Linked DNA regions of Homo sapiens. The protein of the gene in region 1 purifies or fractionates together with the protein of each later gene. This does not show direct contact. Each region holds a gene or a part of one and is shown on either strand. Other genes may lie near its edges.

Region 1 (5,184 bases):
GCTCACCACAGCCTCCACCTCCTGGGCTCAAGTGATGCTCCCACCTCAGCTTCCTGAGTAGCTGGGACTACAGGTGTGAACCACCATGCCTGGCCTCTTTTGTATTTACAATGAGGGAGAATCATCTACTGTACAAACTAGAATAATGAAGAAGTTGCAACTAGAAGAAATTAGGGAATTTGAGAATTTAAGGAACTTGGTCAAGTCACACAGAGAATTAGTGGCCCAAGATAGAACTAGAAATTGAGCATTTCGGTTTTAAGTACTTTTTCTTTTATACTGCATTGCCTTTCTTTGGTGTAAGCCCCATGAAACAAGGTTTTTGTCTCTCGCTTACACTGTATCCTTACTCAGCATATCATGCAGGTTTTCAGTACTTGTTAAATGAATAAATGCACATGAATGAATCTCCCTTGACCACTTCAAATGGAGGAAGACACTAAATCTACTTGATGATATCTGGTCCTGCCAACAACTGGAGAATACCAAGTTCCAGGGCAAAGACATGGTGGCCGGCTTCCCATGCTGGGTAATAAGGAGCGGGACCAGCTAAGCTGCGCAGGGTCATCCAGTTCTCCACATCCCCACCAGGGGGCCACACAACAGCAGAGAAACGAAGCCGGCCAAGTTCTTCATGACAGCAGGATCTTGGAGAGGAATTGGCTCCACCCGCGTCCCACAGGGAAAGCTGGGGCTTCGACTGCTGCTCACTCAGTATGCACTCCAAGAATCTGTGCGGCCCTGGCTGAGGCTTGCTTTTCTCATTTGTGAAGGATTTGGGTTTTGCGGCTTTGACATTAGTTTTGGTCCTTGTGGGGATTTAGTGGTTCTGACAATAACTACTGTGGGATGAGAGAAAGCCATTTCCTTGAGATTGAGGGATAAGAGCAGGAAATAATTTGCCTCTCAGTTATGCTCTTTCTCTGAAATATTAAGCTCCTATGAAATGTCAGGCTTCACTGAAGTCAGGACCCGGAGACTAGTCCCGTCGCTGAGGGAGAGGAAGAGGTGGGGGTGGGGGTTGCAAAGTCTAAAGAGGACCCCTCCCCAGGTACAGAGGGGTCTTAAGGTCCTTGTGTTCCTTCCGAGAGCACTGTGATCCTGCAGTGATACTGAGCCCCGATCCCACTCATAGGTCCCAAGTCCTGTGTGGTGCTTTTCTGGTAAAGAGGAATATGGAACAAAGGGCCTGAGATGGTGATGAAAATAGCAGCAGGGAACAATGGCAGGTGAGGGATAGGCCAAAGGCCAAAAGGCTAAGGAGCAAACTGCGGCCTTGCTCAGGTCTTCCCCCTCTCTGGCACTCCCTAAAATTAGGGGTAGGGGAATTGTACGTCTCCTCCAGCTTTGCACTCAGCACTCGGCTTCCACTGTGCATCCTGCACCATCCACTCTGGTCAGGGCAGCCTCCCCACTGTCCTCTGCTCACACCATCTCATGCCTGCCTGCCTGTGCTCCTGCCACCCGCCCGCCTGCAGGCCTTTCCTCCATTGTCCTGATCAACATCGTCCCAGGGCAAGTTTCCTTCCTTCCGTGAAGGTAGAACCACCCCTTTCTCTTTTCAGAGCTGATGTTACACAGGGCCTGGCCGGGAGAAACCACTTCTTGTTCTCTTCCCTGTAGCACTCCTCATGTAGGAGAAATCCTCATAGTAGGTGACCAGTAAGTACCTGCCAATTGTGATTTCATGCTGGAGCGAGCCAAGAGGCTCTCCCCCCACCAGATTGTCTGTCTGTTTCCCTGCTGTCATTGAGCTAAGTGAGCTTGTCCACACCTGTAGTCAGACAGGAGAGCTTTGCAAACTTCTCCCTCTTTTCACCTCCATCGTGTCTCCTGCCTTGAGCACCCCCTTAAGCTAATTCCTTTGACAGGAAATCTCAGGTGTCCTGAACTAAGAGCTCCCATGAGAAGAGCAGGAGACATTTGGAAGGGGTTACATTTTTAGACAGACTCTTGGGGCTTGGGGTCCTGTCTAATGGTTTTCAGCAAGTTGAAGGGTATTGGTTCAGTGGATTTTATTGTGATATAATACGAAGTGCTTCCACTCTTCTCTCTATCCTCTGCTACCCACTGAGAAAAGATCTGGATTGTCATGGAGTGAACAATGAGACCCAGATAAACACCTACATGGGCGGGAGCTTGGGAGGGAGAAAGGATGTTTCTTTAATTCTGAATTAGGAGGAGATGGTGGTGCTACAAAGAAATACATTTCTAGTTCAGTATGGAAGTCATTTGTGAAACTTCAACTTGGGTGTTAGGGAATAAGCCTTAGACGGTCTCTCCAGGTCAGCAGAAGAGGGGTTGAACGTTTTTACAAGGGAGCAAGACGTGGGGTGCTGCAGGAAAAGGCTGTTTTTTTGTCACACGTCCATTCCTGCAGGGTCCTCCACCTCCTGACCCCATCCTGCTCCTCTACCACTATTTCCTATCCTTTTTCCTTTCCAACTCTTTGATTGACAGGGCCCAGGGCTGGCCTGGCAGCTGTTTGCTCACCGGTTTTGGATGCAGCCTCTGCAGCAAAGTCAGCAGCAAACTTCTTGAGGACCTCCGCACTGTCTTCCTTTACAAAGAGGCCGATGAAGTTGGACGACGTATAGAGCTCCAGGGGCAGCGGGGCCGAGAACTTACATTTCCAGCGACTGACCGTGGTCTGCAGGGCTTCCCCCAGGGCATCCACCTTGCTGTCCTCGCACTGGCAGGGAAAACAGGCAGTCTTCACTCAGAGACAAGGGGAGATGGAAGTCTGCTGCTACTTAACATTGGCATCCTCTCCCCAGAGACTGGAGGAGGCTGATAATGCAATTACTTAACCACTACCCCTGTCTGTGGGGAGAGAGGAACTGCAGACTTCCAATTATTCAGACACAGATTACCCAACTGGTGGATTAATGTGGGGAACACATGACCTCTTCCCTCCTTTCCTTGCTGTGAAGTGGCCCCCGTGAACCCAGCCAAAATGCTGCAGGACTGGTTGAGCCGAAAGCAAGAAAGGGGAGCGAGATTGGGGAGATATTGGTCAAAGGACGTAAAACTTCACTTAGGAGAAATAAGTTCAAGAGACCTATTGTACAGCACAGTGACTATAGTTCATCATAACATATTATATGCTTGAAAATTACTAAGAGAGTAGAGTTTAAGTGTTCTCACCACAAATGCCTGATAAGCATGCGAGGTAATGCATGTACAATTAGCTTGATTTAGGCACTCCACAATGCATACATATATTCAACCATCATGTTATACGCCATAAATGTATATAATTTTTATCAATTAGAAAAAAATCAGGCTGGGCGCAGTGGCTCATGCCTGTAATCCCAGCACTTTGGGAGGCTGAGGCGGGCAGATCACTTGAGGACTGGAGTTTGAGACCAGCCTGACCAACATAGTGAAACCCCATCTCTACTAAAAATACAAAAATTAGCCAGACATGGTGGCGGACGCCTATAATCCCAGCTACTTGGGAGGCTGAGGCAGGAGAATCACTTGAACCCGGGAAGCAGAGGTTGCAGTGAGCCAAGATCACGCCACTGCACTCCAGCCTGAGTGACAGAGAGAGACTATATATCCATAAAAAAAAAAAAGAAAAAGAAAAAAAAAATCAAAGTTCTCCTTGCTTGTGAAAAAAAAAAAAAAATGAAGGAATGTGACAGGAGAGAGTGCAGCATCCCAGGAGAAGCTGCGTGTTTTCTACTATTTTGTATCATCTGTACTTTTCTTTTCCTCTTAGATGATCAGAAGTTGACTCTACATCCACCCTCATGATAGTTGGGAAGAATGAGTCCCAGAGAGCTGTGACATCATCCTCCTACCTTCCTGAGAGCATTGGAAAAAAGAATGAACGTCTCTCAAACTCTGAAGGGTTTTGAGAAAGATCCTGGGATGACTAAGAGGAAATGACAGTCACTTTAATTTTCAGAGTGAATGGTAAAAGAGAAGGTGTTAGGAACATTATTATTACCTGAGAGAGAGAAAAAGAGAGAGAATATATCTGGGGAAGAAAGCAAAATATTTTTTATAAAAATGGTTTAAAATGCTACCACTTTGTTTGGTCTTGAATATATGGAGATAAATCAACTCTTCTCTATTACCACAGAGAGCTAAAGTAGACAAAATGTATTTACATGTGTGATAGTGAGGGGGATTATATTTGGTCAGTAGAGGCCAGGCATGGTGGCTCATGCCTATAATCCCAGCACTTTGGGAGGCTGAGGTGGGCGGATCACTTGAGGTGAAGAGTTCAAGACCAGCCTGGCCAACATGGTGAAACCCCGTCTCTACTAAAAATACAAAAATTAGCCGGGCATGGTGGCATATGCCTGTAATCACAGCCACTTGGGAGGCTGAGGCAGGAGAATCGCTTGAATTCGAGAGGTGGAGGTTGCAGTGAGCCGAGATCATGCTGCTGCACTCCAGCCTGTGTGACAGAGTGAGACTCTGTCTCAAAACAACAACAACAACAAAAATTGGTCAGTAGATAAGCTTTCTGACAGCTAGGATTATACACTAGGTAACAATGGCAAGTAAATATCTTTGCATTCTCTAGAAATATATAGCGGGAAAAAAAAAACTTGTGGACAGGAAATGGCTTTCCCTGTCTATAAACTGCCTTTGTTGTTCCCTGCTCTTAGTTCCTCCTCTTTGCTTGTCGTAAGAGTGGAGAGGGTAGACAGCAAACAGGTGTGAAGCTAGATCAGTGATTCTATTCCAGCAGCCAGACCAGTGTGTCCCTCACAGAGGGTTACAATCTGGTGCTGCCCCCATCCTGGGGTGCTCCTGGGCCTCAGCAGATAAAACTAGGAAGCGTTGGGGTGAGGGGCCCATTGTGGACCTCACTGATCCCTTGAAGGTCCCTCCAGCTGTAGGAGCCTGTGACTATTCCTGCTGTCTTCCTGCGAGGCCTCCCTTTGCTCCAGGTCCCAAAGGGCCGGCTGGGATCCTAGGAGCCAGGCTTCCCAGGGGTGGGGGCGCTGCCGCTCACCATAAAGAACTGGCAGAGTGTGATGTGGGGGAAGATGTTGTGTGCCTTGTTCTTCCCGCAGATCTGCTTCGACTGCTGCCAAAAGTCGGAAAGCTTCTGTGCTAAGGGGCCGGTGGGACGGAGGTAGAGGACGTACTCCCGGGGCAGGGGGTCATCCAGGAAGGGGTCACCGACATGGGAGAATAACCTGTAAGACAGAAGTAAGC
Region 2 (5,184 bases), on another chromosome or scaffold:
CAGAAAAATGCCAAACATTTTCGGGGGGCTCATGATGGACCCCACATTAAGAACCCGAGTGTCCTCAGTCTCAACAGAATATCAAGTCTTAAAGCCAGGCTATCTTGGGATCGTTTCAAGCCACTGCACCCCCTCCCCCCCAACCTCCTGCCCAGGGCTCCCCGGATCAGGCACCTGCCACAGCGTGCGGGTCGGAGCAGAACTCCTCCAGGCTGTGGGGGTCCGAGGCCATTGTCTGCTTGAGACGCTTCAGCACCGAGGCCCCAGCAGCCAGACGGAAGAGACCCTGGGTTCGAGAGGAGGCAGGCAAGGGTCACAGAGGGGTGGGCAGGGCAGGACACCCTGGCGCACTTGTAGCCTGGGGTGTGCCACTGGCCTTTGCTAGGCCTGTGTCCCCGCTGGTCTGGCTGGCAGTGTGGGCACCACGGTGTCCACGGGCTTCAACCTTCAAGGTCTAGAATTCTGAGCAAAGGGCAGGGCTGGGAAGTCTGGGAGGAGGCGGGAAAAATCATGGGGAAATGGAAGCCCAGTCAGAAGTGGAAGGGAGGGGCCGGGTGCAGTGGCTCACGCCTGTAATCCCAGCACTTTGGGAGGCCTGTGCAGGTGGATCACTTGAAGCCAGGGGTTTGAGACCAGCCTGGCCAACATGGTGAAATCCCATTTCTACTAAAATAAAAAAAATTAGCTGGGCATGGTGGTGGGCATCTGTAATCCCAGCTACTTGGGAGGCTGAGACACAATCGCTTGAACCAGGGAGGTGAAGGTTGCAGTGAGCCAGGATCGCACCACTGCACTACAGCCTGGGTGACAGAGCGAGATCCTGTCTCAAAAAAAAAAAAAGGGTCGGGCGCAGTGGCTCATGCCTGCAACCCCAGCACTTTGGGAGGCTGAGGCAGGTGGATCACCTGAGGTTAGGAGTTCAGGACTAGCCTGGCCAACATAATCTCATCTCTACTAAAAAATACAAAAATTAGCTGGGCGTGGTGGTGCATGCCTGTAGTCCCAGCTACTTGTGAAGTTGAGGCAGGAGAATCGCTTGAACCCAGGAGACAGAGGCTGCAGTGAGCCGAGATCACGCCACTGCACTCCAGCCTGGGTAACAGAGCAACACTCCATATCTCAAAAAAAAAAAAAAAAAAAAAAGTGTAAGGGAGAAAGGAGGCCCCAGCACAGCAGGATTGCTGAGCAGCGCAGAACTGTTTTGGGGTATCTGCCACCACTAGGGTCTATCTTCAGGACAGGGGGGCAATGTATTCACAGCAGATCCAGCCAGTGTGTGGCAGTGGAGCCCCTGGTTTGAGAAGTCACCTTCTCAAATGACTCTGGGCATGGTTACCTCTCTACCTCTGTCTCCCTCTTGTGAAATTGTGAAATGGAGCCTGGAATGCAAAGGCTTCTAGTACAGCGCTTGGCCCACGCGAGCATTGACACGGGGGAGGTAGTGTGGATGCCGCAGGAGGCAGTCATGTCTTCTCCCAGGGAGCTGGGCTCGAATGAGGGAATTACAGGCACCCGGAAAGGGCAGCAAGTGGGCGGTTTGGGACAGAATGAGGGCCCCAGTGCTCCTTCCCCACCTGCCCCAGGGGACCCCACCTCTTCCTTCATGCCCTCAGAAAGCAGCATCATGACGCAGGCCTCGATGGGCAGGGCAATCTCCCGGCCCAGCTCTTGCAGGTGGGTTGCCAGCGACACCCCATACACCCTGGGGAAGTGGGTGGCTGTCATCGAAGGGGAGTGGTCTGCAGGGATGAAACAGATCAGCGGCCCAGGGCCTTCCCACCCCGAGCAGTCAGGCAGGGGCACCCCCCCTTCATGTCCTCAAGGTGGTACCACCTGCCACTGACTGTCCAGGCACACATCTGAAATCATCCGTCACATCTCTCGAATCAGCCCGCCTCCACTGCCTCTGTCCTAGTCCAGGCCACCGTTGCCTCCTTCTGCCTCACAGGCCTGGCTCTAGTCCTGCCCGCTTCACTCCACCCTCCACACAGTAGCCAGAGCTGCCTCTCCATCACAGATTGAGCCTAGCTCTCAGAACCCATCCACAGCTTCCTGCTACCTTTCAGGATGAAGTGCGAGCTTCTCAATAAGCCCCGAGCAGGGCAGGGTCAGGGGTGTGGTATCGCCGGGCCTATGTCCCCACCTGCTTGGCCGTGGTTCTCCCTCAGCTCAGCCAGGGCTGTGTCCAGCGAGCTCAGTGACCTGCGATGGTAATCGGCCTGAATCTCCAGGAGCTGTGGGGATGAAGGGACACCCTGAGCGGAAGTGGGGGAAGCTGAGCCTTCTATAGGGTCCTTGAGAGCAGACGCCCCCTCCACCATCTTAGAGCCCCAGTGGCCCCTGGCTCTGGCATTCAGCCCCTGAACTCTGGATGGCTGGGGCCCGGTCTTGGACTCACACGAATGAAGTAGTTGGCATAGGAGTCCTCCTTGGTAACAAAGTGGTACAGGTCAGCCAAGTACTCGTCCTTGGGGACAGAGAGGGGAGAGCTTACGTTGGGTGAGGCTGTGGGGTCTAGAGGGGAAGAGGAGGCTTGGAAGGGTTGGTGACCTCCCCCAGGCCACACAACTGCAGGTGGAAGGTCCCAGCCAGGCTCCTCTCTCTGCCAAGGTTGGTGCTTGGGGCCAGCCCCTGGGAACTCCCTCAAACTTTTCTGGCTTCTCGTCCCCATCTCTGTGTCTCCATAGACTTAGCACAGTGCCTTGTTTTTTGTTTTGTTTCGTTTGAGACGGAGTCTCACACTGTTGCCCGGGCTGGAGTGCAGTGGTGCAATCTTGGCTCACTGCAACCTCCGCCTCCTGGGCTCAAGCGATTCTCCTGCCTCAGCCTCCTGAGTAGCTGGGATTACAGGCGCCCGCCACTACGCCCAGCTAAGTTTTTGTATTTTTAGTAGAGACAGGGTTTCACCATGTTGGCCAGGCTGGTCTTGAACTCCTGACCTCATGATTCGCCTGCCTCGGCCTCCCCAAGTGCTGGGATTACAGGCGTAAGCCACCGCGCCTGGCCTTGCACAGTGACCTGTTATTCACCATTCAGTCATTCTTTCATTCACTCTTCATTTATTCATTCACTCGCTCGCTCAGCAAACAAACACATGGAGACTCAGGGAACAGACCAAGTCTCTGCCTTCCCAAGTTATGCATGGGGTACAGACAGAAGAGGCTACGAGGGAATGGCGGAGCTCTGCTGGCTCCTAGCCACGTGGCCTTAGGCAAGTCATGTCACCTCTCTGAACTTCAGCTTCCTTGCCTGTGAGATGGGCCAGGACCCACCCCTGCCACCCCTACATATCCAGGGGACCCCCATGGCCCTCACCCTGCATTGCTCCACTTTCCTCTTCAGCTCCTCCTCCTCCTCCTTCAGCGTCTCCACCTTGTTGGCCATGGTCGTATGGCTGTGACTACCCGGGCTGCCTCCTAGGCCTTGACTGCTGCCTGAATTCTTGGTTGCCTGACTGAGCCTGGAGATGATCCCAAGGTGAGCTGGTCACCTGCCCTGTTGCATGTCCAGAGCCAAGTGTCCCCTCCATACAGCAGACCACATGGGATTCTAGGATTTAGAGCTGCAGATCTGAGAGCTCCACTGGCCGGGGCCTCTGCCCAGGCTGGGCCATGAGTGCTCTGGGTTGCCCCCTGGTGGCAGATTTGGTGATCACAGCCACTCCACAGAGGGGAGAACAGGGCTGCCGCAGGACTGTTTACAGGATCCCAGGCTTTAGGGTTGCCCCAGCACCAGCTGTGACACACGCGGGCACACCCTCACAGATACGCTAACCACCTGTGCTCCTAGGGACCAGGCGTGCACAAGTACACACACTGTACTCAGCAGACCCCACAGCATCCTCCTGGTGTGGCCAGGGCCTCAAAGCTCTATGACCATCTCTGTGGGCTGACCCAGATATGAGCCCCCTGAGCGGCTGGGGCTCCCACCTGCTCTTGAGTGTGTTCCAGTCGGACACGAGCTTCTGGAGGCTTTTCTTGTGTTTGAGGATGGCTGGCAGCTCCTCCTGGGGATGGGCATGGGGGGGTCAGTGTGCTGGGGGAGGAGGGAGCCAGAAGCTGGGGAAGCTGGGGGCTGAAAGCAGGGCACAGGCTCACCTCACTCAGCCTGCTGAGTGGCTGCAGGACGTCCCTCTCCAGGGTCATCTCAAACTCGGCCAGGATGCGGGCCAGCTGATTCTGGATGGCACAGCTCATCTCCAAGGCCTTCCTGTGGACACGGCACCCCATGGGTCCAGGCGCCCGCTGCCCTCACCTCCACTGGAAACACTTGGTGGGGCCTCTCCTCCCTCACTTCCGGCCCCTCCTAGATATCCTTCATCTCTGCTAAGCTGAACACCCTCCCAGGCCTGGCCACCCTCACTGACCTGGGAACTGTCCCCAGCCTGGTCATTCTTCTGATGTGGATGCCCTCACCACCTGGACCCCCTCCCAGCTGAGATCACGTCTTGGTATCCCCAGGTGAGGGCTGGGCCCCGTCTGTGCTCACCCCATGCTGGAATCAGGGTCCAGCTCCTTGAAGCTCTCAGCCATCGTGGTGGACAGAGCCATGAGGGGAAGCTTCTTCTGCAGGGAGGGTGGGGCCGGCGATGAGTGTCCGTGCCTCCCTCCACCCTGCCTGAGCACCAGGCCAGCCCCTTGGGGCAGGGGAGGAGGGAACCCAGGAGGGCCACAGTCCCAGATGAGAGTGGAAACAAGATGACAAGGCGTGGTGGGGGTGACATTTCCCTGAGAGCATGGATGGAGCCCCTCTCCATCTGGCGTGCCCTTTCCTCTTCCCAGAAGCCACTTGACTGGGCAGGAAGGAATGACCAAGTCCTACTGCAGACTGGGAAACTAAGATGCAGGGAGGGCAGGGAGCTTGCCCCAGGTCACACAGGTGGAGGGAGAATGGGAGCGGGAGCTCTTTCCCCTGTCCCAGGGTATATATGGCTGACCTAGCCACCGCTGAGTTCAAACGCTCTATGGCTCCCAATTTCCTTGCCTTGGCCACACTGAATTGTCAACTGATTCCAAAACATGGCCCCACACTCCCACCCCATCTGGAGTTACGGGGAATGCCTGCTCTGGGATCAGAGACCAGGGTTCAAACCTCAGTTCTGCCACTTACTAGCTATGTGACCTTGGACAAGTGACTTTATCTCTGAGCCTCCAGTTCCTCATGTGTAAAGCAATGCCTGCCCCT
Region 3 (5,184 bases), on another chromosome or scaffold:
CATTAGACAAAGCAAGTCCATGAGGGTGGGGGAGAATGGGATGAATGATCCAGTTTAGCTGTGTTTCCTGATTACAAATAAAAGCAACTATAATAAGTAATAATAATGGCAGGAATTTTATAGTGTACCCACCATTTTTCTAAAGGCTTTATGTGGTTTTACTCATGTATTTATCATAATGATCCTGTGCAGTAGGTACAATTGTTATTTCTGTTTTATAGATGGGAAAACTGTGGTATATAGGGTCCAAGAAATTTGTCTGAGATAACACAGAGCCTGAATTTGAAGCCAGGTGGTCTGGCTCATAACTCTTGAGTCCAGGGTCTTAACTGTTGCTCTATAATGCTTCTCACTCACCCAGCTCTACCTAGGTGGGTTCTATGGTTGAAAAGATGGGGTGGGAAACTTGTCAGTGGCTCAGCTCCAATTCATTATGACTGTCAGGCACTAACCTCTGTGGTTGCTCAGCTTCACAAGAAAATTACTAGGTTGTAGAATGTTGTTTCGCAGGTGATTAAAACACACACACACACACACACAAACACAAACACCTGGCGTCCTGAGAGATCAAGATTTGCCAAATGCAGTATCAGTAAGTAGGGAAACTGAAAGTTGAACTTGGTTTTGCCACTAAACTACACTGCCTCTTGGTTAGTGAGTCTCATCCTAAGGAGGCTAGGTTGGTTGATAAAGGATTGCCTGGGAGGTGAACTGTAGCCAGTACTGGCTCTTCTGTGATTTAAGTCTGATGGGCTGAGCTTGGCACAGATGTTGCCCAGTCTGTAGAGGCAAATGTCAGCTTCAGTGGGTCAGTGCTTTTCTTCTTTGACCCACTGGTTGCTTAAAAGTACGTTGTTTAATTTCCATATATTTGTGAATTTTCCAGTCATCCTTCTGCCATTGATTTCTAGTTTCATTCCATTGTGATTGAAAGGATACTTTTGGGCCAGGCATGGTGGCTCAGGCCTGTAATCCTAGCGCTTTGGGAGGCCGAGGCTGGTGGATCACCTGAGGTCAGGAGTTCTAGACCAGCCTGGCCAACATGGTGAAACCCTGTCTCCACTAAAAATAAAAAAATTACCTGGGCATGGTGGCGCACGCCTGTAATCCCAGCTACTTGGGAGTGTGAGGCAGGAGAGTCGCTTGAACCCGGGAGGCGGAGGTTGCAGTGAGCTGAGACTGTGCTACTGCACTCCAGCCTGGGCGACACGGCCAGACTCCGTCTCAAAAAAAAAAAAAAGGATACTTTGTATGATTTCAGTCTTTTAAAATTTATTAAGATTTGTTTTGTGGCCTGACATGTAGTCTATCTTGGAGAATGTTGCCTGTGCACTTGAGAAAAGTTACATACTTTTTTCTGCTGTTGTAGGGTGACAAGTTCTGTATATTGTGTTAGCTCCAACTGGTTCTTTCCCTAATACCATGCTGCTTCCTTGTTTTTTATTTTCTGGATTTTGCAGAGCAAGAGAATGTAGCAGAAATCATGACCCTCAGAGCTCTTGGAGCTGTAGAAAATAGGAAATAATGGAGATATACTGTAGACTGAATATTCATCTAAGTTTGAACAGTTAGGAAGTTGCTTAGTGTTCTGTCAAACAGAAGGAACTAAATAACTAGAGATGCTAATCACATGGGGAGCAAAATGTATTAGTGGGCCAAGTCTGAATTTCAAAGATAATTAGCTAGTTAAGTATTGTTCTAAAGTAATATGCTGACCAAACAAAATTTAAAAATACAGAAGGGTGAAAAGTTAGTCCCTCTACCTCTTTTCTACTTCTCACTGTCAATATTTCCTTGTGTATTACTTAATTTGTGTATATATGCCAGCATAGAGTTTTGTTCTGTTTTTTTTTTTTTTTTTTTGAGATGGAGTTTTGCTCTTGTTGCCCAGGCTGGAGTGCAATGATGCAATCTTGGCTCACTGCAACCTCCGCCTCCCGGGTTCGAGGGATTCTCCTGCCTCAGCCTCCCGAGTAGCTGGGATTACAGGCAAGCACCACCTTGCCTGGCTAATTTTGTATTTTTTAGTAGAGACGAGTTTTCTCCATGTTGGTCAGGCTGGTCTCGAACTCCCGACCGTAGGTGATCTGCCCGCCTCGGCCTCCCAAAGTGCTGAGATTACAGGCGTGAGCCACCACGGCTGGCCGAGTTTTGTTCTTTTTACTAATTTATTTATTTATTTGAAACAGTCTTGCTCTGTCACCCAGGCTGGAGTACAATGGCACGATCCTAGTTCACTGCAGCTTCAAACTCCTGGGCTCAAGAGATCCTTCCACCTTAGTTGGTCAAGTCGCTGGGACACACCACCATGCCCAGATAATTTTTAAATTTTTATTCTTTTTATTTTTATTCTTTTTGTAAAGATGGAAGTCTCCCTATGTTACTCAGGCTGGTCTCAAACTCCTGGGCTTAAGCGATGCTCCTGCCTCCGCCTTCCAAAGCTCTGGGATAACAGACATAAGCCACCACACTCAGCCTGTTCTTTTTAAAACATAAAATAGGATCCTTGGCCAGGTGCGGTGGCTCATGCCTGTAATCCCAGCACTTTGGGAGGCCGAGATGGGCAAATCACTTGAGGTAAGGAGTTTGAGATCAGCCTGGCCAACATGGCGAAACCCGGTCTCTATTAAAAATACAATAATTAGCTGGGCATGGTGGCACACACCTGTAGTCCCAGCTACTTAGGAGGCTGAGGCAGGAGAATCGCTTGATCTCGGGAGGCGGAGGTTGCAGTGAGCCGAGATTGCACCATTGCACTCCAGCCGGGGCAACAAAGGGAGACTCTGTCCCAAAAAATAAAAATACAAAATTAAAAATAAAAATAAGATCCTTTTTCTCCCTCTGGGATTTGTTTTTAAGTGTACTTTGTCAGTAAGCAAGCATTGGTTGGAATCTCAGATAGTGACTGATGGGACAGGAAAAATAAGATGGTATTCTAACCTTCAAAAAGCTTATATTCCTTAAAATAGGAAAACAAATAGAGATCAGTTTAAGTTCAGAAGGTGTTTAAGGAAGAAAGATGTTAAATTGAGTAGGAGTGGCCAGAAGTAGAGTTGAAGATGAGATAAAACATGAATTAGGCTTACAGAGGAGTAAGATATGGAGAGATGGACAAGTGGGGTGGTGAAGAAGAGCTTGAACAAGACAGGCAGGGGTGAATCTTTTCCATACGATCCAGTGGCCCAGCGTGGCTGCCACAGATGGGGTGGCCCAGTGTGGCGGCCACACAGAGTTGGCACAGACCACTGTTTTTTTTTTTTTTTTGACCTTTATTTTGGTAAAAAGGAATTGCTTTCTAATATTTCTCTCCCCTGTCTCCTCTATTTCTGTTTTAGGAGAACTACAAGCAGATGAAAGCACTAGTAAATCAGCTCCATGAACGAGTGGAGCATATAAAACTAGGTAAACACAGCATTTATTCCACAGCTTATGCCTTTACTTAAGATGTCCTAAAATAGTTATTGCTTTTAGGAAAAATACTGGAATTAAGCTTTTGATATTTTTTTTTTTTTTTTGAGATGGAGTCTTGCTCTCTTGCCCAGGCTGGAGTGCAGTGGCGCCATCTCAGCTCACTGCAACCTCCGCCTCCTGGGTTCAAGCCATTCTCCTGCCTCAGCCTCCCAAGTTGTTGGGATTACAGGTGCCTGCCTCCATGCCTGTCTAATTTTTGTATTTTTTAAATAGAGACAAGGTTTCACCATGTTGGCCAGGCTGGTCTTGAACTACTGATGTCAAGTGATCCATCTGCCTTGGCCTCCCAAAGTGCTGCAATTATAGGCGTGAGCCACTACTCCTGGCTGAGCTTTTGACTCTTAAGACTATGCATTTGTTGGTATGCAGGCATTTAATTTTATTTTTCCTATTACTTGGCCAGTTTTTCTCTTCATAGAGTACTACCACTTTTGGGGGGAAAAGTAAAGATTCAAATTCATAAATTTTATGAATAAATAATTTATTTTTAATTTTTATTAATTTTTTTTTTAAGAGATGGGTTCTTGCTCTATTGCCAGGCTGGACTGAACCCCTGGCTCAAGCGATCCTCTCATCTTGGCCTCCCAAAGTGCTGGGATTACAGGTATGAGCCACCACACCTGGCCAGTGATTTCTTAGTAGGCATTTAATATTTCCTCCCTAAGTGCTGAATCTCAGATGGAAAGCATTCTTCATATTTGATAGACTGTTTCAGATAACTTTTATCAACAAGTATATAATACTTAAAATTGTATATAATACTTTTAATGTAAAATTTTACATTTAGGTTAGAGTAGTTTAAATACTGGATCTCAGGAGTATAAAAATAGTGAAGAAGACTGGATTTGGAAAGTATGGTCTAGAATTGCTTATTTACTAGTTTATTTAGAGACAGGGTCTCCTCACTCTGTTGCTCGGGCTGGACTCGAAGTCGGGAGCTCAAGTGATCTTCTTGCCTCAGCCTCCCAAGTAGCTGAGACTGTACCTGTGCCCCTGTACGCAGCTATGGAATTCATACTTTTGAAGCCATTTTAGATCAAGGTGTTGTCTCCAGAAAAAGAATTCAAACTCTTGCTGAAATGAAAGTGTTTTGTTAGGGGTGATAACTCAATTGTTATGCCCATTTTGAGAGTTTGATTTGGTGAACTCACTGTCCCCCTTAGACATTAAGATGGTGGGTTTTGGGGCCAGGCACAGTGGCTCACGCCTGTAATCCCAGCACTTTGGGAGGCCGAGGTGGGCGGATCACATGAAGTCAGGAGTTCGAGACCAGACTGAGCAACATGGTGAAACCCTGTCTCTACTAAAAATACAAAATTAGCTGGGTGTGGTGGCGCATGCTTGTAATCCCACCTACTCGGGAGGCTGAGGCAGGAGAATTGTTTGAACCTGGGAGGCGGAGGTTGCAGTGAGCCAAGATGGTGCCATTGCACTCTAGCCTGGGTAACAGAGCGAAATTCCGTCTCAAAAAAAAAAAAAAAAGAGGTGGGTTTGACTCAATGGAGGGTTGAGGAGTCCTGTGGCATCAGGTGCCTGCTGGGGATGGTGGATGCTGAGGAACCGTGGTGCAGGCTGGTGGCCACAGGAGGGTAGAGGACTGAGCCGGACTCCCTGGGGAAGGAGGTAGGGAGAAGGGGGAAAGGACAAACTTGGCTGTCACAGCTTTGCCAAGAATTAAATGTCAGGGGAGCTTAATTATGTGCTCTGTGAGCC
Region 4 (5,184 bases), on another chromosome or scaffold:
TATTCCAGGTGCAAGTCACCAAGCCTGGCTAATCTTTTTTATGTAGAGACAGGGTTTTGCTATGTTGCCCAGGCTGGCCCCCAACTCCTGGAGTCAGGTGGTTCTCCCACCTTGGCCTCCCGAAGTGCTGGCATTACAAGTGTGAGCCGCTGCACGCAGCCTCACATCAGCACCTCTCAATCAATTGGTGCCATCTCCCTGCACATGAACCCTTGCGTCATGATGACATGTGGTCCTCACAGCCAGGCATTTCTCCCCACCCCAGACATAGAGTGAGAGGAGCTCTGCTCTTCCCTCAATAATTCGTGCCATGCTGTGCACTCCTGAGGAGCAAGGCTCTGTGGTCTGCTGGCTCTGCTGGGCTGCATTTGCAAAATGCTAACCTTCCTGTGTCAACCCAGCATCTTCACAGGTGGAATGAGGATGACAAGGCCAAAGCCCACTCGTTGGGTTATTTTTTCAAATTGAGGTATAATTCATATTCCATACAGTCACCCTTTCTATGGTGTACAATTCTTAATTTTCTTTTTTTCCAAGACAGTCTTGCTCTGTTGCCCAGGCTGGAGTGCAGTGGCATGATCTCGGCGCACTGCAACCTCTGTCTCCCGGGTTGAAGTGATTCTCCTGCCTCAGGCTCCTGAGTAGCTGGGATTACAGGCGCATGCCACCATGCCCGGCTAATTTTTTTTTTTCTTTTTGAGACAGAGTCTCATCTCACCCCTGTTGCCCAGGCTGGAATGCAATGGTGTGTTCTTGGCTCACTGTAACCTCCGCTTCCTGAATTCAAGCAATCCTCTGCCTCAGCTTCCCAAATAGCTGGGATTACAGGTGCCTCCCATCACACCCAGCTAATTTTTGTATTTTTAGTAGAGACGAGGTTTCACCATGTTGGCTAGGCTGGTCCCGAACTCCTGACCTCAGGTGATCTGCCCGCCTAGGCCTCCCAAAGTGCTGGGATTACAGGCGTGAGCCACTGCACCTGGCCCTGGTATACAATTCTTTATCGTGCTTTTAGTGCATTCACAATGTTGTGAAACCAACACCACTGTCTGATTCCAGGACATTCTCAATACCTCGAAAAGAAAAGAAACCCTGTACCCACAGCAGTCACTCCCTATTCCCTCTCCACCCAAACCCTGGCAGCAACTAAATGACTTTTTGTCTATGGATTTATCTTTTCCGGATGTTTCATAACTGGAAACATACAACATGTGGACTTTGGGGCCAGCTTCTTTCACTGAGCACAATGCTGTCAAGCTTCATCTGTGTTGTGGCATGAATCACTCCTCTCCAGGGCTGACTAATGAGCCACTGTATTGAAAGAACCACATTTTGTTTATCCATTCATCAGTTGACAGGCATTTGGGTTGTTTCCACTTTTGGGCTATAATGAATAATGCTGTGATGAACATTCATATACAAGGTTTTGTGCAAACATATATTTTCAATATTCTTGGGTCTATATCTAGGAGCAGAATTGCTGGGTCATTTAAGTCTAACACTTTGAGGAACAGCTAAACTGTTTTCCTTGGTGGATCCACCATTTTGCATTCCTACTAGCAACATCTGAGGGTTCCAATGTCTCCACTTCCCTACCAGCACTTGTTATTATCTTTTTTATTATAGCCATCCTAGTGGGTGTGAAGTGATGTCTTATTGTGGTTTTAATTTGCATTTCTCTAATGGCTAATGATGCCAAACGTCTTTTCTCATGGTTAATGGCCATTTGTATTTGGAGAAAAGTCAATTCAGATCCTTTGTACATTTAGAAAACAGGGTTGTTTGTCTTTTCCTTGTTTCCTTGGGTTATCAAGAGGACAAAATGGAAAGATGTGAGTGACATTTACAGCCCAAGTCCAGGCATGTGGTAAGCACCCACCGAATGCTTTGCACACATAAAAATCATGCTGGTGCTGGGCAAGGTGGCTCATGCCTGTAATCCCAGCACTTTGGGAGGCCGAGGTGGGTGGATCACCTGAGGTCGGGAGTTCAAGACCAGCATGACCAACATGGAGAAACCCCATCTTTACTAAAAATACAAAATTAGCCTGCGATGGTGGCATATGCCTGTAATCCCAGCTACTCGAGAGGCTGAGGCAGCAGAATTGCTTGAACTTGGGAGGCAGAGGTTGTGGTGAGCCGAGATGGCACCCTTGCACTCCAGCCTGGGCAACAAGAGTGAAACTCTGTCTCAAAAAAAAAAAAAAAAATCATGCTGGTGATCAGGTGTGGTGGCTCACACCTGTAATCCCAGTACTTTGGGAGGCTGAGGCAAGAGGATCATGAGGTCAGGAGTTTGAGACCAGCCTGGCCAACACAGTGAAACCCTGTCTCTACTAAAAATACGAAAAATTTAGCTGGGCATGGTGGCGGGTGCCTGTAATCCCAGCTACTTGGGAGGCTGAGGCAGGAGAATTGCTTGAACCCAGGAGGTGGAGGTTGCAGTGAGCCGAGATCGTGCCATTGCACTCCAGCCTGGGCGACAGAGCTAGAATCCGTCTAAAAAAAAAAATCGTGCTGGCAATTAGTCTTTATGAGCTAAAAGTGACTAGTGACATCTCAGAAGCAGAGGAGTACAGGACCCATCTGTGAAGAACATTCCATACAGAGGAGAGAAGAGAATGGGGGCAGAGGATTGCTTAGGAAACTTCCTGGAGGCCTCTGGGGGATGCTGAGTTGTCACTTGAGGCCTCCTTGGAGGAAGCACTCAGAGAGATGGAAGCAGGAAGAGGACTGAGTGATGCCCCTGTGACGGAGGCTGCTGGGGACAGGGCTGGGAGCCTGGAAGCCAGCAGGAGGAAGGGATGGGGGCACAGAGGCACACAGAGTGAAACCAGGGGCAATGAACATGACATCAGGAAGAAAGGCAGGCATCTGAAGACCACTGGGCTCCAATTGAGGGGGTGGGTGCAGAGGGTACTGAAGTCCTGGGGCTGAGGACGATGGAAGGAGCACAGCATGTTCCATGACGGGGGTACTCAGGCTTGACAGGTGCGGCAGCACGTGGGGACCAGATTCTCTCCCCTGCTCACTTCAGGCTCCTGTTGTCCCCTTTCATTAGGAAAACACGATATTAACAAGTGCAGGCCCCTAACAGTTTGGGTTCAATACTTACTGTAAACAACCCCACGGAGGGCTGTCCCCGAGAGATCATTTGGGACCTCCCCGGAGCAGAGAGGCTTGCTGGACCACACAGCTGTCAGTGGCAATGGAGAAACAAATAGATCTGATAAACAGCAATGTCCTGTTCTTTAGAGTCACTTTAAAAAATGGTATTTATACAAAGCACAGAAAGTACAAAGCAAAAAGCAGAAAAGTAACCACCCCATCACTGAGACACTAGAATAACCATTGTTAATTCACTGGTGTATCTTCTTCTTCTCTCTACCTCCCTGTATGTATGTAATTTCCATTTTGTATATACATGTATTACATGTATATGTATAATTTTAGTCTGAGATTTCTAGCAGCATTAGCATTTTCCCATTTAGTTAGAATTTCTTCCTAAATATCATATTTTAATTTTAGTCTGAGATTTCTAGCAGCATTAGCATTTTCCCATTTAGTTAGGTTTTCTTCCTAATGATCATATTTAATGGATGTACAGGATTCTATTACATGATGTGCGACACTTCATGAAATGATTCTTCTATTATCAGATATTTAAGTTATCAACAGCATTTTGTTGTTATAAATATGACTGATGAAGGTCTTTTGCAGAAATGTTATAAACATGTCTGGTTATAGATTCCGAGGAGTGGAATTACTAGATCGAGGGACAGGAATGTTTTTAAGGCTCTTGATACAGAATGATACATTGCTTTCCAGAAATTTTTTTCCATATATGCACCAGTAAGCTGTACAAGAGAGTGCCCGCCTCATTCTAACCTTCCTATTCTGAATATTTTCATTTCAAAACACAATACATTGCAAGGTGAAGGTGGTGAATGTTCATTTTGATTTGCATTTGATTGTGGTCACGTTGAGCTTATTTGATAGAGTTATTGACCCTCATAATCCCTCTTTCGTGAATGGTCTGTTCAATTCTCTTTGCCATTTTTCTATCGAAGCTATAGTTTTTCTGTTATCTACTTGCACAAGTTTATATCACACTTGTTGCAAATATTTTCATTGTGATTTTCCTTTAAGTTTTATGATTTTTTTTTGACATTCAGGGACTGTAAATTTTTATATAGTGAAGTCTCTCAGTCTTTTCCTTTTTTCTCCCTTCGCTTTTCAATGCAGAGAATCCCTCTGCACACAGAAATTCACTTGTTTCTTCTTGTACAAGGCAGGTGGGTTATGACAGAGACTTTGGAGCTAATAGACTTGGGCTAAGGATTCAGCAGGTTTTTTTTTTTTTTTCGAGATGGTGTCTCTGTCTGTCACCCAGGCTGGAGTGCAATGGTGTGATCTTGGCTCACTGCAAACTTCTGCCTCCCCAGTTCAAGTGATTCTTCTGCCTCAGTCTCCCGAGTAGCTGGGATTACAGGCTCCCGCCACCATGCCCAGCTAATTTTTGTATTTTTTAGTAGAGACGGGGTCTCACCATATTGGCCAGGCTGCTTTCAAACTCCTGACCTTGTGGTCCGCTCGCCTCGGCCTCCCAAAGTGCTGGGATTACAGGCGTGAGCCACCGCGCCCGGCCAGGATCCAGCAGTTTATTTAATTCCACTGGGCCCTGGTTCCCCTTTCGAAAACCAGTGCTAAGAATACCTATGTGGTAATGTTGTGGGGCAGATTGGATGGAAAATATGTATCATGTTTTTAGCACAGTACTTGGTAAAAACAAATGAAGCAGTTATGGGTTTTTTACTTTTGTTTTTGTTTGTTTGTTTTACATTGAACCATTTAATCTCTCTGGAATTAATTTAACAAATGATGCAGGATACAGATTTAGGCTGGGCACAGTGGCTCACACCTGTAATTGCAGCACTTTGGGAGGCCGAGGCGGCCGGATCACCAGAGGTCAGGAGATCAAGACCATCCTGGCTAACATAGTGAAATCCTGTCTCTACTAAAGATACAAAAAAAATAAAAATAAAAATTAGCTTGCCGTGGTGGTGTGTGCCTATAGTTCCAGCTACCTGGGAGGCTGAGGTGGGAGAATTGTTAGAACCCAGGAGGCAGAGGTTGCAGTGAGCCAAGATTGTGCCTCTCTACACTCCAGCTTGGGCCACAGAG

What was found. The genes of interacting proteins can lie anywhere in the genome.
Region 2: the proteins of UBASH3B (region 1) and SH3BP1 fractionate together in Homo sapiens (co-fractionation; one large-scale study listed by BioGRID). This does not show direct contact.
Region 3: the proteins of UBASH3B (region 1) and MCCC2 purify together in Homo sapiens (affinity purification with mass spectrometry; one large-scale study listed by BioGRID and IntAct). This does not show direct contact.
Region 4: the proteins of UBASH3B (region 1) and INPP5D purify together in Homo sapiens (affinity purification with western blotting; one study listed by BioGRID). This does not show direct contact.

Annotation. Positions count from the first base shown.
Region 1 is NC_000011.10:122,777,005-122,782,188, reverse strand, and holds part of UBASH3B (ubiquitin-associated and SH3 domain-containing protein B), read right to left. Parts: intron 5,166-5,184; coding exon 4,979-5,165; intron 2,693-4,978; coding exon 2,494-2,692; intron 1-2,493. UniProt on the Homo sapiens protein: Interferes with CBL-mediated down-regulation and degradation of receptor-type tyrosine kinases. Promotes accumulation of activated target receptors, such as T-cell receptors and EGFR, on the cell surface.
Region 2 is NC_000022.11:37,641,920-37,647,103, reverse strand, and holds part of SH3BP1 (SH3 domain-binding protein 1), read right to left. Parts: exon of another isoform or gene 4,566-5,184; coding exon 4,489-4,565; exon of another isoform or gene 4,210-4,488; coding exon 4,098-4,209; intron 4,007-4,097; coding exon 3,930-4,006; intron 3,478-3,929; exon of another isoform or gene 3,461-3,477; coding exon 3,316-3,460; intron 2,468-3,315; coding exon 2,399-2,467; intron 2,235-2,398; coding exon 2,144-2,234; intron 1,740-2,143; coding exon 1,594-1,739; intron 287-1,593; coding exon 175-286; intron 1-174. UniProt on the Homo sapiens protein: GTPase activating protein (GAP) which specifically converts GTP-bound Rho-type GTPases including RAC1 and CDC42 in their inactive GDP-bound form.
Region 3 is NC_000005.10:71,589,591-71,594,774, forward strand, and holds part of MCCC2 (methylcrotonoyl-CoA carboxylase beta chain, mitochondrial isoform 1 precursor), read left to right. Parts: intron 1-3,335; coding exon 3,336-3,402; intron 3,403-5,184. UniProt on the Homo sapiens protein: Carboxyltransferase subunit of the 3-methylcrotonyl-CoA carboxylase, an enzyme that catalyzes the conversion of 3-methylcrotonyl-CoA to 3-methylglutaconyl-CoA, a critical step for leucine and isovaleric acid catabolism.
Region 4 is NC_000002.12:233,066,093-233,071,276, forward strand, and holds part of INPP5D (phosphatidylinositol 3,4,5-trisphosphate 5-phosphatase 1), read left to right. Parts: intron 1-5,184. UniProt on the Homo sapiens protein: Phosphatidylinositol (PtdIns) phosphatase that specifically hydrolyzes the 5-phosphate of phosphatidylinositol-3,4,5-trisphosphate (PtdIns(3,4,5)P3) to produce PtdIns(3,4)P2, thereby negatively regulating the PI3K (phosphoinositide 3-kinase) pathways.